Regions from separate parts of the Homo sapiens genome. Here region 1 is linked to region 2. Evidence: fine-mapped expression QTL. A gene starts in region 2. The other region holds a variant in brackets. All regions are shown on one strand. Distances are from middle to middle. Region 1 overlaps SDHA (succinate dehydrogenase complex flavoprotein subunit A). Region 2 holds the start of PDCD6-DT (PDCD6 divergent transcript).

What was found. PIP is the estimated chance that this variant, and not a neighbour inherited with it, causes the effect.
Region 1: its variant is fine-mapped to the expression of PDCD6-DT in whole blood (INTERVAL, PIP 0.96).

Annotation. Positions count from the first base shown.
Region 1 is chr5:218,954-227,285 of GRCh38, reverse strand. It overlaps SDHA (succinate dehydrogenase complex flavoprotein subunit A), which reads right to left. Exons shown (of 15, transcript NM_004168.4): 2 at 3,718-3,804; 3 at 2,765-2,926; 4 at 1,724-1,867; 5 at 1,239-1,403. Among named protein-coding and RNA genes, the nearest start is that of SDHA, 4.8 kb to the right of the region's middle. RefSeq lists an enhancer at 8,148-8,332. The variant G/A (reference allele first, on the strand shown) is at 3,986.
Region 2 is chr5:266,727-275,058 of GRCh38, reverse strand. PDCD6-DT (PDCD6 divergent transcript) reads left to right here and starts at 3,535. Exons shown (of 2, transcript NR_104613.1): 1 at 3,535-3,714; 2 at 4,852-5,503. PDCD6 (programmed cell death 6) reads right to left here and starts at 3,413. Exons shown (of 6, transcript NM_013232.4): 1 at 3,238-3,413; 2 at 2,287-2,348. The coding sequence starts at 3,338. PDCD6-AHRR (PDCD6-AHRR readthrough (NMD candidate)) reads right to left here and starts at 3,413. Exons shown (of 13, transcript NR_165163.2): 1 at 3,238-3,413; 2 at 2,287-2,348. It also overlaps a transcript of SDHA not described here. RefSeq lists a silencer at 3,121-3,330 and enhancers at 3,621-3,710, 4,372-5,064.

The DNA.
Region 1 (8,332 bases), 48 kb after region 2:
GCAATCCCAGCACTTTCGGAGGCCAAGGCAGGTGGACTGCCTGAGCTCAGGAGTTCGGGACCAGCCTGGGCAACATGGGAAACCCTGTCTCTACTAAAATACAAAAAATTAGCCAGGCATGGTGGCGTGCGCCTGTAGTCCCAGCTACTCGGGAGGCTGAGGCAGGAGAATCACTTGAATCCAGGAGGTGGAAGTAGCAGTGAGCTGAGATTGTGCTACTGCACTCCAGCCTGGGTGACAGAGTGAGACTCCGTCTCAAAAACAAAACAAAACAAAACAAACAAAACCAATCCATTCAGGAACTCAGAGGTGGTAAAAGAGACTTAAAATACTTGTTCTTTTTTTTTTTTTTTTTTTGAGATGGAGTCTCATTCTGTTGCCCAGGCTGGAGTGCAGGGGTGCGATCTCGGCTCACTGCAAGTTCCGCCTCCTGGGTTCACGCCATTCTCCTGCCTCAGCCTCCCAAGCAGCTGGGACTACAGGTGCCTGCCACCATGCCTGGCTAATTTTTTTGTATTTTTAGTAGAGACGGGGTTTCACAGTGTTAGGCAAGATGGCCTCAAACTCCTGACCTTGTGATCTGCCCGCCTAGGCCTCACAAAGTGCTGGGATTACAGGCGTGAGCCACCGCACCCAGCCTGTTCTTTCTCTTTTTTTGAGACAGGGTCTCCTGTTGCCCAGGCTGGAGTGCAGTGGTACGAACATGGCTCACTGTAGCCTCAACCTCCTGGTCTCAAGTGATCCAGGAGCCTCAGCCTCCTGAGTAACTGGGATTACAAGCATGTACCACCATGCCCAGCTAATTTTTAAACTTTTTGTAGAGACAGGGTCTTGCTATGTTGTCCAGGCTGGTCTCAAACTTCTGGTCTCAAGTGATCCTCCTGCCTTGGCCTCCTAAAGTGCTGGGATTACAGACCTGAGCCACTGTGCCTGGCCTGCTTGCTCTGCTCTTGTATGTTGAGTGTCACATATCCCAAGTTAAAACCTGGTATGTAAGATTATCGATTCAACTTTCTGACATAGATGCAAGAAGTCACACACTGCCTTAGGGACAGCTCCTCAAGGCACACGTCTGGTCCTGTCACATCCACAGTCGCTGCATGCGCCCCACGCTGCTGTTCTCTGTTGCTTTTTACGTAATCTCTGGCTGACTCACTGGGCACGCTAACCCATTCCCCACTGTCACCATAAGCCCCAGCACTACGTGTCCTGTCTCAGGTGGACGGGGGCGGCCTTACCCTTCCATATAAGGTGTGCAATAGCGAGTGGCCAGTCCGATCAGCCACACAGCAGCACCGATGGGCCTGCCCGCCCTTTCCAAACTTGAGGCTCTGTCCACCAAATGCACGCTGATAAATCTTCCCATCTTCAGTTCTGCTAAACGGCATGCCATAATTTTCTAGCTGTGAAAGATAAAAACAAACAAAAACCTTAACACCTTAAAGGAGTCAAGATATTCGCAGCTAATCTACACTAAACAAGTTTAACACAAATCTGCAAACCCAAAGTAACCTATTTTATGAAAATGTCAACACTTCATCAAAGAGAAGTTTTCTTGTTACATATAATGCATAGTTCATAACGGAAAAAGACTCTTCTTGTGAACTTTGCTCATCACCATTCTTTTGGCTGCCACATCCGCCTCAATTGCTTACATTTTTTTCCAGGATTCTTTTGTACTAGAAACAGACCACGAGAACACCCAGAGCCTCCCGCCCATCACCTCGACCACGGCGGCGGGGGCCTGCTCCGTCATGTAGTGGATGGCATCCTGGTCCCCCAGCCAGTCGGAGCCCTTCACGGTGTCGTAGAAATGCCACCTCCAGTTGTCCTCCTCCATGTTCCCCAGAGCAGCATTGATTCCTCCCTGGAAACACCAACCACTCCTTACAAGCCACAAACAGGAGCGCCAACTTTGTCTTCCAGGCCCAAATCCACCCGCTGGGGGGATTCAGAGAAAGCCAACTACTCACACAGTGACTCCCAGTGAGGGCTGACCTCAGCAGAGGAGCAGCGAGACCCGACAGATTCCAGATCACAACCCCTCCCCGACTCGCCCAGTGATTCCATCCTTAGCCTCAGTCTCCTCATCTGCGTGGTGGAGACACAGGGAACTCCAGGAAGGGCTGACTGGAGCAGTGAGTGAAAGGCTACCTGTAATATGCTTATAACCTAACCTATCTGGCACAGAAAAGGTACTCAACAAATCTTTCCAGATAATTTTATTAACAAATCTTCCCAATGGCATTTACGGGCATGTGTTAAAGACTAGAAGTGCTTCCTGCCAAGTAATAAACTCCACACTCAGAGTCGCACTCCCCTGTACCCCAGCTTCCTTTGGCTGTGTGTGCCCACCACTGTCTTACCCCTCAGAGAGTCCCAGAAGACAGAAGCACAGGGACAAATGAAACCCTTGCCCTTTTCTTCCCCAACCTAAATTCTGATTCCTCCTCTTTAGGTGATCTCCTTTTCTTAAGGTGTTGGGGTGGCGGGGGTAGGTGGGGAAGGTAGTAGGCAAGATGGTCAGAGAAAACCCAAGTGTGACTGGAGTCTGAATTAGGAGTGACAACAAGTCTCCCGCCCTTCAAAGTCCCCAGGGAAGAGGCTCCAGGGAGAGACCCCTGAGAGGGTGAGCTGAGTAAGGCACAGCAAGAGGCCATGTGGCTGGAGCAGGGGGAGGAGGCAGGGGGCTGCCCAGGTAGAAAGTGCGAGGCTGCGCGGGACCTGCACGGAGTGGGAGCACAGTGGGGCACCTTTCTCTTACCTGTGCTGCAACAGTGTGTGACCTGGTAGGAAACAGCTTGGTAACACATGCTGTATTAAACCCTGCCTCAGAAAGGCCAAATGCAGCTCGCAAGCCTGCCCCTCCAGCGCCTACCACCACTGCATCAAATTCATGATCCACTACTGGATACTGAGCAGAAATCTGGAAAAGAAAAATTCACCTGTCAATCACATGTTCCACTATGCCAAACATGAAGAATCTTGTGACAGTGAAAGAGCTTGACAAAGATAAAAGGAGCAACTGCTGGGCACACAGGGCCTCCATCCTGTCCTGGGGCTGAGCCCTGAACAGTTCGGGGAGAGGTGGGCACATTCGCACCTGGAGAAGGGACTGACAATCAGATTCTACGAATGGTAGAGGGTCTATCCCATGGGGTCAGACTGAGGACCACAACTCTACTTCAGGGCCGTGCCTATGCTTATGCCTGAGAAGGTGCCAAGGAGTATTCAGTCGCTATTGTGGGCTTATAAGAAAACAACTTCTCAGCAAGTTTCAGTTTTTCAACAGAGATAGGCTCACTAAATACAAAGCAACCCACACCCGAGGGGCCCCACCATCCTATTTTCAGTAGGATTTTATCATCTATCACAGCAGATACTGTTCACTGGCCCCACCGTCCTATTTTCAGTAGGAATTTTATCATCTATCACAGCAGACACTGTTCATTTTATTTTAATTTATTGCTTTACTTGATCTAAATTTAAATCTAGTTTATAGATACATAACAGATACAAGTAAAAATGTAAACATCTATGTTTATATTTGTACTTGCAATTAAGTATTATTACACTGAAAATAATTTCAGCATGCATTGGATACCTATGAGAAATTTTTCCCTTATGTCTATGACTCATATGAAAACAAACTGGTATAGATCCTTACCCCCTAAGCCAAAAAAATCATTTATAATGGAACAAAAAGCATGAACTTACGGAATCTGAAACTTTAGCAGATGCCCTCTTGTTCCCATCAACAGTGAAGTGAAAACCTCGGGTTCCTGTTTGCAACACTGTTGGCCACTGGAGACACAGAAGACACAGATCCAGAGGGTTAGTGTCCTGAAGGAACAAATGCTGTGGGGGATAGTAATTTCCCCTTGCAAACTGTTCACCTTCTTATGTACCCAGGTGCTCCTGTGCATCCAGAGAGCTCAGCTGGGACCCTCTACTTAACCCTGAAGGCAGCCCAAGGGGCAAGGAA[G/A]GACTGAGCCCCCAGGTCCTCGTTTCCACCCTGACTTGGCACTCTAGAAAACCAGGATGAAGCTTGTTTCCAAACAGGATACTCACTGACTCAGATACGAAATGAAAAAGGCACACTTCCTCTGTGAAGTCTTAATGTATGCTACTTAGTGGAGAAGGGGAAAGACGTGTATATTGTATTACTGTATGTGGTATTTTGCAAGTAATGAAGCATTTTAACTGGCTCCATCATAGCCCTTTCCACATTACAGTTCCAATCGTCCAGGAGGGCTTGTGGTCAGTTCAAAAGGCACTCAACATTGAATCAGGAGATCTGTATCCTGGAACAGTAAAAGCTGACAGCCTAGAGGGACGAGGTGTCATCCCTTCATCACACAGGAGGATGTCGGATGCACACTCTCCCCTGCCTGGCTGCTGCTGGCTTTTTCCTGGCCAACATCTACAACTTGACACATCTTGCTGCTTAAATTTTCCATCTTAGAAAACTTTACCCAAGAAAACTGGTTTTGGTGTTTAGTTTTTAGTGGCTCTGTGTGAGAGAGGTGACACTGTCCATATGCTAAGGTTGGCCAGCCATTTAGGGGATACGTTTTCCATTCTGCTGGCTACATTTGAGAAGACCACTGAATAGTCTCAGAAATATCATCAAGAATAGTTTTAGGGGCTGGGCACGGTGGCTCATGCCTGTAATCCCAGCATTTGGGGAGGCCAAGGTGGGTGGATCACCTGAAGTCAGGAGTTCAAGACCAGTCTGGCCAACATGGCAAAACCCCATCTCTACTAACAATTAGCTGGGCGTCGTGGCGGGCACCTGTAATCCCAGCTACTTGGGAGGCTGAGGCAGGAGAATCGCTTGAACCCAGAAGGCAGAGGCTGCAGTGAGCCTAGACTGTGCCACTGCACTCCGGCCTCGGCAACAGAGAGAGACAACGTCTCCAAAAAAAAAAAAAAGAAAAGAAAAAAAAGCTTTAGGAAATAAATGCAATCAGAAGAGGGGATGTGAGGAATGTCTTCAAGTATTTAGAAATACTTGCAATTCAGAAATTACTTATTATGTGGGATAAAAAATTATTCTTCATTTCTCCAATTTCTAGTCTCTGTTTTTATTGGTATAAGCTAATTCAGCTTTTTTCTTTTTTCAGAAAATGAATGAGAAAGAACAAATATTCTTCTACCTTAGTAAAATTTTTGCATGGTAAAATCATATTTTAAGAAAGAAGTCTTTGAAATAATTTTAATACAAATGTTCTTGAAAATGTTGTAAAGTGCCCTATTAACATAGTAATAGCACCAGTAAGAACAGTATATTATACCAAATGTAAGTAGAAACAGTGAGATCACTCAATGTTTATTCGTTCTTTCTAGGATGTTGATGTGGAAGACCCACTGCCCACCCCCCACCACACACACACAGAGCTGGCTTAAAAGGGGCAGCTACTATAACACAATCTTGAACAAATTATCACGCCATCCCCCTGGCGAAAAGGACACTAACCCTCTCAATCTAAATCTAATCTGGGGCAGATTTTTGAATTTGGAAAGCCCAACTTTAAGCCAATTTCAGTCTTTAGATAAAACTCAAAACTAGTTTTGACACAAAACTAGTCTTTTGTGCCAATTGTTAATTTTTTTAGGAGAAACTATCAAACATTTCCTCAAGAAAAAAAATGGGGAACATATAACTAAAAGGAATACTTAGACCTTGCTTAACAATACAGAATTTCAGATGACTGAATTAGGAGGTGGAGGGGAAAAGTAAGAAGTGCAGAGACATTCATATCCGAAATCTAGCAAAGTAAGGGGTCCTCATCTAATACAACGCACCTATAAATCACGAGCAAGAAACTAATCTGCATGTACAACCTACACAATCACAAAAGCAGCCAACGAAGAACCTAAAAACGCACGACTGTATCAGGAAGAAGCGGAAGCAGGGTAGTTTAAGTGAACTAAATCCCCTCTCTAGGCAAGAAGTCTAAAACTGATAAAAATGCACCTGCATATCCGCTAAAGAAACAGAGGTATTACAAATGCCAGGAGTCAGTATCAGAAACAGGAATTGCTTTCATGGAAAATGAACTGGGTGAGGGAGGGTATACTCATTGATTCTTTTACAACTGCGTGTAATTATTCTCACTAGAATTTTAGTGTTTATTATTTTAAAAACAGGGATACTTAAAATACAGTTCGGCCGGGCGTGGTGGCTCACACCTGTAATCCCAGCCCTTTGGGAGACCGAGGCGGGCGGATCACGAGGTCAGGAGATGGAGACCATTCTGGCTAACATGGTGAAACCCCGTCTCTACTAAAAACACAAAAAAATTAGCCGGGCATGATGGCAGGTGCCTGTAGTCCCAGCTACTCAGGAGGCTGAGGCAGGAGAATGGCGTGAACTCGGGAGGCAGAGCTTGCAGTGAGCCGAGATTGCGCCACTGCACTCCAGCCTGGGTGACAGAGTGAGACTCTGTCTCAAAAAAAAAAAAAAATTCAGTTCACACATGGTTACTGTGCATAGGCTGTGAGCCCTGGTTCTCAAGAGCATCACCAAAGGTTTCAAACATTACCCACAGAATCCTCACTAACCCCACGGAAAGACGGAGCTCAGAGAGGATTCAAGTCGGCCGGCCTGGCTCTGGATCCTGGACTTGCCCCCCTATCTAAAGACCCTTGGGAAAAATCTCTGAGACTCCCAACTAATATTAATATCCAGGTTTCATATCAAAAAACAAGTCACAATTTTTCAAATAAATCAGGAAAAACATCATGAGGAATGCAGAATGGAATGCCATTGTTGTTACAATTATCCCAAGAAGCAAAGCAAAGGTTTACTACTATAATGGCCTAAATAATGTATTTCTAGAACACCATTAAACATATTCAGAACAATCCATTCAAAGAAAAGAAATCAATTTGTCCTAGAACAATATATTGGATGTTCATGTTAAGGGATTTGAAAAACTTCACCTGAAGTAAGCAGTTAACCAGTAACTATTGAAGTTTCTTGGTTTTCTTTTTCCTCTGATTAAACTGCTTTCGAACAGTTTGCAAGCTGTGTCAGTGCACTGGGCCATAAAAAGAAACCAAAAGCAAAATAAGTCTGATAAGTTCGTCACTTGAAAGCAGTTGTAAATACAGAATGATCAAAACACCACAGAACTGGCCAAAATGAGGTTAAAAAATTCTCTCTGGACTTTACTGAAATTATCCTCAGCATCTATTTTCCAAACACATTTCTCAGTTGGCTATCACGAATTTCTTTCTTTTTTCTGCTAATTTTTTGATTATGCTGTTCCTTCGTAAACTCCAATTCTTCAGGAAAAAAAGCCTATCTGAAATGCCGATAAATATGCTGCTTGCAGGCAGAATTTCTGTAGGAAAAGCTAACTTCATCAAGATAAAAAGACTTTTACAAAACCCAAGACTAAATTTTGGTTCAATTTTGCTATCTTGCCATCCCGTCTGAGGTGCCTCCGCCGCTGGCAGGGTCTTAGTCTGCAGAAGGAACACCGGGCACCATCTGGGTTGAGGACAAAGGCACTAGCTCTAGCTTTTCTCCAATCACAAGCTACCATTTCCCCTAAAAAGCCCCACTGACCATGGGCTTTCCTTCCTGCTTGTGGACGCCCTCCTAGCAGCTCTTAAAAGCCCAAGATGCGGCAGGGGTCTCTGCTCAGTCAGTACCAACCACAGCAACACACTAGAACGGTTTACACGCTTTCTGATGTTGGCAGGATGGCTGTATGACTAATCCTCACATTTAACTCAACGAGATTTTTAATAAGTATTTCAAAAAGGAGAAAATTGCACAATTACAGGCATAATTCAAATCAATATTGCTGAATGCCTTGGTTCCTATTGAGATTTTTATTCTGCAATTTAAAATTACTTTGTAATTAAGGAGGTGGGTGGGTAAGTTCATTTAAAAGAACCAAACAACTAAACCTATCCAATTTAGCTTGATTAAATAAAACCCTAGAAGGCCGATTCTTAAGATGCAATCGTAGAGGGCACATTCAGACACTCAGAGAGCAAGGGCTCAGGGAAGTATAACCCTGACCACCATCCTGGACTAAGCCGAGCCCGGCCCTAGAGGCACTCAGCGCACAGGCAAGCACAGGTCCCGGCGTCCTCGCCCGGTCAGTGCGCTGAGCTCTCCGCCTGAGTTTTAAAAACTGGCACAGCTGCTTTTAAACACTGGCACATTTTTGGTGGCATAAGGACCACCAAACACGACCCAAAGTAGAAGCCCTTAACTTACAAGGTCTCGAAGTGGACATGGACAGATTTGCGCTTTCTGGAAAGGCGAACTGCAAGCCTAAGCTCGGGCGCGCCACGCTTCCCACCGGAC
Region 2 (8,332 bases):
GCTCAGAGCCCAAGGTAAAGGGGGGCGCCTAAGAAAAGTGACTCCATTGGGACCACGGTGAGAGGGTCCCGATACACAGCTTGGGTTAAGCCACTGATTTCAAAGTATCTCAGGAATGGTGGACTCAGCACCCATCAGGCAATTCTCTCAAGCAGTCTCCTGGTAGATATTTAGTAGCAGCTGAAATCAAGATTATGTTCTGATAGACACTTGCTGATGGTTAAAGAGCTATATACACTTTGAGGACCAGCTGAACTGGGGCAGGACTAACTCCCTCTGGTGAAAATACAGGAACCCAAACACACAAGTCAGAGCAGGAGGTGTCTCCCCCACCCCCAAACAATAATGCTGACCTTGGATTTGGGTTAAGTGCCTAGCCCAGCGTGTGAGTGTTGAGTAAGTGGAAACCATCATCACCATCATCAGGTAATGGAAAACCATCAAAGCTTTGAGCTGGCTTGTTAGCCAAGAATAGTACCAGTGTATTAGCTACTACTAATACTCACAGCTGACAATTACTGAGCACTTGCTCCGTGCCAGGAATCACGGAAACACCTCGCATGCATTTCCTCAATACTCCCTCCCAGTAACGGCGAGGACACAAAACTGGTAGAGCCAGGACTGGAATCCAGGCAGGCCCCAAAGCACTCCAGTGGAGCCTGCCAAGGTGGGCAGGCTACCATACTAATGCGGTCCAGTATTTGACCACCACTCCTATTTGAGCAAGTTTAACAGAAAACCTAAAACTAAACCTAAAATCTAAAAATTAGAGCAAATGCATAAAAAGCAGGCTGTTAAAATGGATCATAAATCTTGCATCACTCATTGGAAAACCACTCAAAATAAATGTCTCTGAAACATGGCCTCTGAGGAGGGCACTCCGTGTGGCTTGTATCACCCTGGTGACAAACCACTTGAACCTGGATGGTCATCTGACCATATTTAACAGGTGATGCACAGAGCCATTTGCATCCACTGTGGTCAACATTTAGGAAGTTTTAAGCTGAGATTTGCCAAATTGTAGCCTACTGGATTCCGGGTTCTCTTGACATCTCTTTCTAGTAGCCACGTCTTGCACTTCCCGAGTAAAAACGAACTGAGATGCAAATAAAAAAAAAAAAAACGAGGATTTAAGAATAATGAAAAGAGAAAAACCAAGAAAGCACAATCACTAGTGTAGAGATAACAGCATTTCTGAATTCCCTGAAAACAATCTATAGAAATGCATGTGAAATAATACACCAGCATCTGTGGCCCACACGCCACATATTAGGAACTGATGTCGTAATATAAGGTAAAAATGTTACTCTGAAAACACAAATCCTCACAAATCATTAGGCAGTAAGGCTGAATCCAGCACCCCCCCACCCACAGCGCAGTGAGGCAGTGTCTAGCAGCCGTAGTGCTCCCCGCGCCCCAGTTCAGTCTCTGGCAACTTCAGATACTTCCCACTAATAACAAGAAGCCTTTCAACATTTTCACAACATCTCAAAACTGACCCCTTTTCTAGCTTAAATGGCACGGATCTGGAAAAGCAAACTATACACAGAATCAGAAAAGATGACTGCCCCTGAGGGATTACAGAAAAAGTGGCAGTCAGGTTTCAATGAAGTAAAATGTGTCCAATGATAGCGGAGGGGAGGGGGATCAACTGAGCTGAAACTGGCAAGAACGTAATTCCAGGGAGCTCACAACACGCAAGGACCCGGATTTCCCGCTGCCTGAACGCCCAGTATTCGCACACTGATAAGAACACCTCCCCATAATCCCCTGGCCAGCGCCTCCAACACCCCCAATCCTTTCCCCAGGAACCCAGTCCCAGTTTCTGCAGTTCCTGTAACAGCCACATTCCCATACAAGGGCTGCCTGAGCTCCCCAAGCCCTCCAACAATCACCCCCCAGTGCCCTCGAAGGTCTATTCAGAGAAGTCACCAAGATGCAGTCACCCAGGAAATTCAAGGACCTCCAACTTACCAAAAGGCTTTCGGCTGTACAGAGCTAAGCTTCCTATTCCCCTCCTAAACCTACAATCTAGTTTTCATTTCTCAAGAAGCCTTTCCCTGTGCTCACGCACGCAGTTGTTAGCTGGCTCGGTGAGGCACTCCAAGCAGTAACAGCGGTAGCCACAAAATAAACCAGAAGCATCTCCACTACGAAGCAGTAATAACAATTTGTCCTAATGATTCCTTTGTCCTTGGAAAAACAACTTCAGAAAGTTATCCACTGTGAACAGGGCAGGCTCGCGGCTTCTTGGTCCGGAGACCCAGTTCCCACTGGCCCACTCACCGTTGGAGAGAGCTTGCTGAAGCTCGGTGTCTGATATCACTCCACTCCTGTCTTTATCGACCCTATAACATCAAGAAGACCAAATAAGCTGGCGATCGAAAGTTCAGGAAAAGCAAAACAAACGTCTTCTGTCAACCCTGCACCGACTCTGGAAGGCTCCCTCCTGGAACCTCCGCCTCTCCCGTCCCGCTGAGGAGTACAGCGGAATCAAGGAAGTGCCCCAGGAGCCGACGTCCAGTGTGGTCTTCCCCTAAGAGGACAATCATCTTCACCTCAATCCTTCCCTTCCTTCCTCTCCTGGCCTGTCTGAATTCCCATTTGCACCCGTTTCCCTTTTTCACAGACAAGACAAGATTCCCTCAGATAACTAAGCCATTCCCTGGCCATCAGTCACTACAGTTTCGGACATTCGGTGGAAAAGCGACCAGGGACAGAAGGCGCCGCCATAAAGGTCACCTGGCCCGAGCAGACGCCAGGTCGCTGCTTCTTCCTTGGCTGCTGACATTTTAACAGCGCCCAGGCAGTCTGTTTCCGCTTTCCCCAAACAAGCACCCTGGAGACCCTCCACCTGGCGGCTCTTGAGGCGAGAAAAAGGGCCTAGCCCAGGAGCCGGTGGCCGCGACCTCGGGTCTGCAGTGGCGCACTCTGCATCTTGGGAAGGGCCCGACGCACAGGACAGGGACCGGGCAGGAGGCAGGGGCGGCCCCAGGAGACCGGGCAGCGGACGGGGGAGACCGCGGGGGACCCGCCAGGGGACGGGGGCGGCCGCGTCGGCTGGGGCAGGGGTCGGGGGCGGCGGCAGGGGACGGGAGGGGGCCGCGGGGGACCCGACAGGGGACGGAGGAGGCCGCAGTAGAACCGGCAGGGAACGGGGTTGGTCGGGGGAGTCGGGACAGGGGTCGGGGCCGCCGCGGCGGAGGCGGGAGGTGCCCGGGCGGTGCCAGGCCGCACCTCTGGAAAACGTTCCACAGGAAGCTCTGGTCCGGCAGCGCCGCGCCTGCAGCAGGCCCAGGGCCGGCCCCAGGGCCGGGGCGGTAAGAGTAGGCGGCCATGGGCCAAGGCACGCGGCTGGGCTGAGGCGCCTGCAGCGACGAGAGACCTCTCAGGCCGACTCCGCTTCCGCCTCTGCCGGGGGCAGGGCCTGGCATTATCACCACTTCCGGGGGCGCAGGAAATGCGTGGTCTCCGGGATGGTCACGGGGTCCCGCGCAGCCAATCCCCTCGCAGCTAAGTTGCCAGGCAACGCCCTGGCGCCTGCGGGGAGGGCGGGGTCTGGGCGCCTGGAGGAAGCCAGAGCTTTGGCGCAGGCCGCCTGCGCGCTGTGCCAGGAAAGCGCTTGGAGAAAATGTCCGGCCCCGCGACCTGGGACAGGAAGTGATGGAGCACGGACTTAGTTTGCCTTTCAGTTCTTGTATAAATAGTTTTGAGGTGAATGTGATTTGCTAACAGTCGGAAACTCTGGGCGGGGCGCGGTAGCTCACACCTGTGATCCCTGCCCTTTGGGAGGCGGAGGCGGGCGGAGCTCTTGAGCCCAGCAGTTCGGACCAGCCTGGGCAGCATGGATAGACCCCATCCCTACAAAAATTACAAAAAGTAGTCGGGCGTGGTGGGCTCCTGTGGTCCCATCTACTCCGTGGGCTGAGGCGGGAGGATTGCCTGAGCCCGGGAGGTCAAGGCCGCAGGGAGCCGAGCTCACTGCACTACAGGGGTGGACAGCGAGACTCTGCCAAAAAAAAAAAAAAAAAAAAGAAAGCAAAAGCAGGCCGGGCGCGGTGGCTCACGCCTGTAATCCCAGCACTTTGGGAGGCCAAGGCCAGTGGATTACCTGAAGTCGGGAGTTCGAGACCAGCCTTGGCCAATTGGGAGACACCCCGTATCTACTAAAAATACAAAACTAACCGGGCGTGATGGTGCACACCTGTAATCCCAGCTACTCGGGAGGCTGAGGCAGGAGAATTGCTTGAAACCGGGAGGAGGAGGTTGCAGTGATCCGAGATCGGGCCATTGCACTCCAGGCCTGGGCAACAAGTGCAAAACTCTGTCTCAAAAAAAAAAAAAAAAAAAAGTCAAAACACAATTCGGGTGGGAAAGGCAGTGTGCAGCATTCTCGGTTGTCTGTTCCGCCCCCAAAAGCTTCCCTCCTTTAGGTTTAACCTGCGCCCCCGTGCTCTGCATCAGCGCGGCCCCTGACCCCGTGCAGCTGGAAACACTGCTGGGCCCCTTCACACCCCTGCCTGCTGGGCCCCTTCACACCCCGGTGGTGGTGCAGCCCTGCCTCCCGCAAGACAGCACTGCCTTCGTGCTGGACACAGTTCTAAGGTGGAGCCTGGAGTGCCTGTAGCACAAATCCCGGAATTGGGAAGTGCCCAGCTTTGGGCCACTGTGATCCCTGGGTCTTTCCCACGCGCGTAGTCTCGTGCCGCCTTCCACCCCGGTCCTGTGTCCTGTGCCCCGGTTCAGAATACTACAATTATTCTCATTATTTCATGGGGTTATTTCAGCTTTTCAGTTTCTTCAGTGCCTCATTCCATGAATGCTAACTTTTTTCATCCTCATACTTCCTAGGGTTGTCTCTGAATTTTCACTCAGTTGTCTACCAAGATGTTGAATGGACCCAGAGCCAAGGACGTGGTCTTTTATCAGTGGCACCTGAGACTTTCTTCCCTGTGGACGCAAATCCATTATTCAGCACTCTGGGCACAGCTACAGATCTGATCAGCTATCCATTCTCCAAACTATCTCATCCTCTGTCCCATTTTTCTGTCTCTCTTGTCCACAAGGCATATACCTGAGAGTTTTCAAATTCCTCAGAGAAATTTAGATATTCTGTGGCTTTGGCATTCACCTAATGTGTTAATCTACAAACCTTTTTTACAGTGTGGATTTTTTTTCATGATGTGAATTCAAGTGGTTTCTAATGGTCTCTTCATAAAGTTGTAAACCAAAAGTAAAATTCTAAGGCCCCACCCCATCTGAATGGACCCCTTCTCTGGGCCAGGGCACTCCAAATTAACCTGAAAACCGTTCAGGCCACGACATGAAGTGGGGGCGGGTGGGACATGGCTGACTATGCCCTCCTCCCTTTTGGAATTCAGGGAAAGCCAACACAGACCTTAAGTCTAATGAGAAACACCATCTATTCTCTCTGAAGCCTGCTACCCCAAGGCTTCTTCTGCTGATAAAACTTTGGTCTCCACAACCTCTTATAACCCAGACATTCCTTTCTATTGGTAATAACTCTCAACTAATTGCCAATCAGAACATTTTTAAATCTACCTATAACCCAGAAGCCCCCACTTTGAGTTGTCCTGCCTTTCTGGACTGAACCAATGTATATCTTGAATAGATTTGATTGATGTCTCACGACCCTCTAAAATGCATAAAACCAAGTTGCACCCCAGCCACCTCCTGAGGTCTGTGTCATGGGCGTGGCCACTCTATTTGGCTCAGAATAAATCTCTTCAAGTATTTCACAGAGGTTCAGCCTTTTCATTGACAAAGTATTCATATCACTTGTTGAAGAATCCTTTCTAGAATCTTCCACAGCTCTTTGAGCTGTAGTTTCTGAAGTCCATCTTTATTCTCCCTCCCATCACTGGCTCCTGTTTTGTTCTCCAGAACTCTGAAAATACTAACAACTATGATTTTGTGACCCAATTTGGAAGTTCTTACAGGGAAACCTCAGCAAGAAACAGCTCAGTGCTAGACGCAGTGGCTCATGTCTATAATCCCAGTACTTTGGGAGGCTGAGGTGGGAGGATCACTTGAGGCCAGAACTTCAAGACTAGCTTGGGCTATTTTAAAATTTTTTAAAAGGGGGAGCATCTCAGTGACTGCAGCAGGCCTCAGCCTCCACTCCCAACAGTTAGTTGGGCTCTACCAACTGTTGGCCGAGTCTCCAACCTGGAGTACCACAGCCATCATCACCCATGGCACCCAGGAGTGCTCCGTCATGCTTTCCCTTTAGTTCTAGGGGTAGAAAATGCCTTCATTCAAGAGAGGACACACTTAATGAATGCAACCAGCTAGAATCCACCCTTTTAATATTTAAATATAATCCACCCTTATAATATTTAAATATGTGGCTTTGTTTAATCCTCCCCATGCCAAGGCACCATATCCACATTTTACTGAAGAGAAAACTAGAGTTCAGAGAAGGTAACTTGCCTAAAGCCAAGCAGGCAGTAAGAGGAGATTCAAGCCCAGATCCTTTTGTGCTTTTTCTGCATCATCTCAGGGGCAGCAAGGCTGACTCTTGAAAGGGAGGTTAATTACTATGAAATTAAGGTTTAAAGAAAAAACACCCTGGCCAGGCGCGGTGGCTCACAGCTGTAATTCCAGCACTTTGGGAGGCTGAGGCGGGTGGATCAAGACCATCCTGGCTAACATGGTGAAACCTCGTCTCTACTAAAAATACAAAAAATTAGCCAGACGTGGTGGCAGGTGCCTGTAATCCCAGCTACTTGGGAGGCTGAGGCAGGAGAATGGCGTGAACCCGGGAGGCGGAGCTTGCAGTGAGCCGAGATTGCACCAGGCACTCCAGCCTGGGCAACAGAGTGAGACTCCGTCTCAAAAAAAAAAAAAGAAAGAAAAAACACCCTGCGTGCATACTCATATGAATGTACAAATGGATGAGTCTAGAACAAGAGATACTAGCCTGTTACATACACAAACTATGCAGCTGCAGTCCCTGCTGCTTCTACAACCCTGACCTCTAAGAAACCTCTAGCTCTGAATCCTGTCAGTACCTGGGCTGTGCTGCTTGGGACAACATTGTCTTCACAAGTCCTCTCCACATTCTCAGAGGTGGGGGTATTGCCAATGATGGGGGTTGCTGCCTGAGTCCCGTCACCAGGGGACAAAGCTACAGCAGAGACCACCATCTGCCAACAAAAAGAGAGATCATCTCCCACCCCTGGTTCTGCTGACCCAATCACTGGAAGCATCAAGGCACCACTATCTCCTCATCTGCCTCAGATTCAATTTCCTCCTAGCCAGGTCTGTTCTAAGCTCTCCAGAAGTTGAGAAATTAACTGAAAGATAACACTTTCCTCCCTGCATTAAGGTTCATCACATAATGTATCCAAATACTGGGTCAGTCTTTCCTTTGGTCTCGTTTCTCTCAGCTAATTTGAAAATGCCTTTTCTGTTTTCATTAGAATTTTTCTAAATGTTTCTGGGCACTTGTGTTCCTGAGGCTTTCCATAGTGCACCCTCTTATGCATCTGATGTCTTTGGCACATATAGGCCCTCAACAAGTATTTGTTAAATGAACAGATAACCATCCTGTCCTTTGTGTGAACAAGCATATGCAAGTGTACATTGTATCTGTACATGTATCCAACAGCATCCATCTGAAGCCACTTTGTTCGCTTATTTTCTCAGGATGACTGATGGCTGCATCATGACATTTGCACACAGAATCTTTTCTTCTCCAGTCACTTTTCCTTTTTCCAGATTCCCGCCATAGAATTCCAGGGACAGAGCCAACCATGCCTGGCACCCCCTCCTGTCCTGGGACAATGATACTTTCTCCCGTGACTCCCATCTTCCTTCCAACATTCTTCTGCTAGAATTCAGTAAGGAAGACAATGACTTACCACTTTTAATTTTTTCCCCTTTTTTGCTTTTCTACCAAATACTGCTTTTAACACAGGCTTTTCACTGAGTAGTGGACAATCTATCAGCTAGGTGCTATTCAGTGTGAGGGGCATTTGCAAAGGTCTGCATCAGTGCTGGCTGATGGAACTTTCTAGTGATAGCATCATTCTGTAGCTGCACTGTCCAGTGCAGAGGCTACTTGCCACTGTGGCTACTGCTCAGGATGGTGCAGGTCTGAATATCTTAGACACAGCGGCCACCGTGTCTACTGCACGGGACTGAATATTTTAGACACAGCGGCCACCGTGTCTACTGCACGGGACGGCGAGGGTCTGAATATCTTACAGACAGCGGCCACCGTGTCTACTGCACGGGACGGCGAGGGTCTGAATATCTCAGACACAGCGGCCACGGTGTCTACTGCACGGGACGGTGCAGGTCTGAC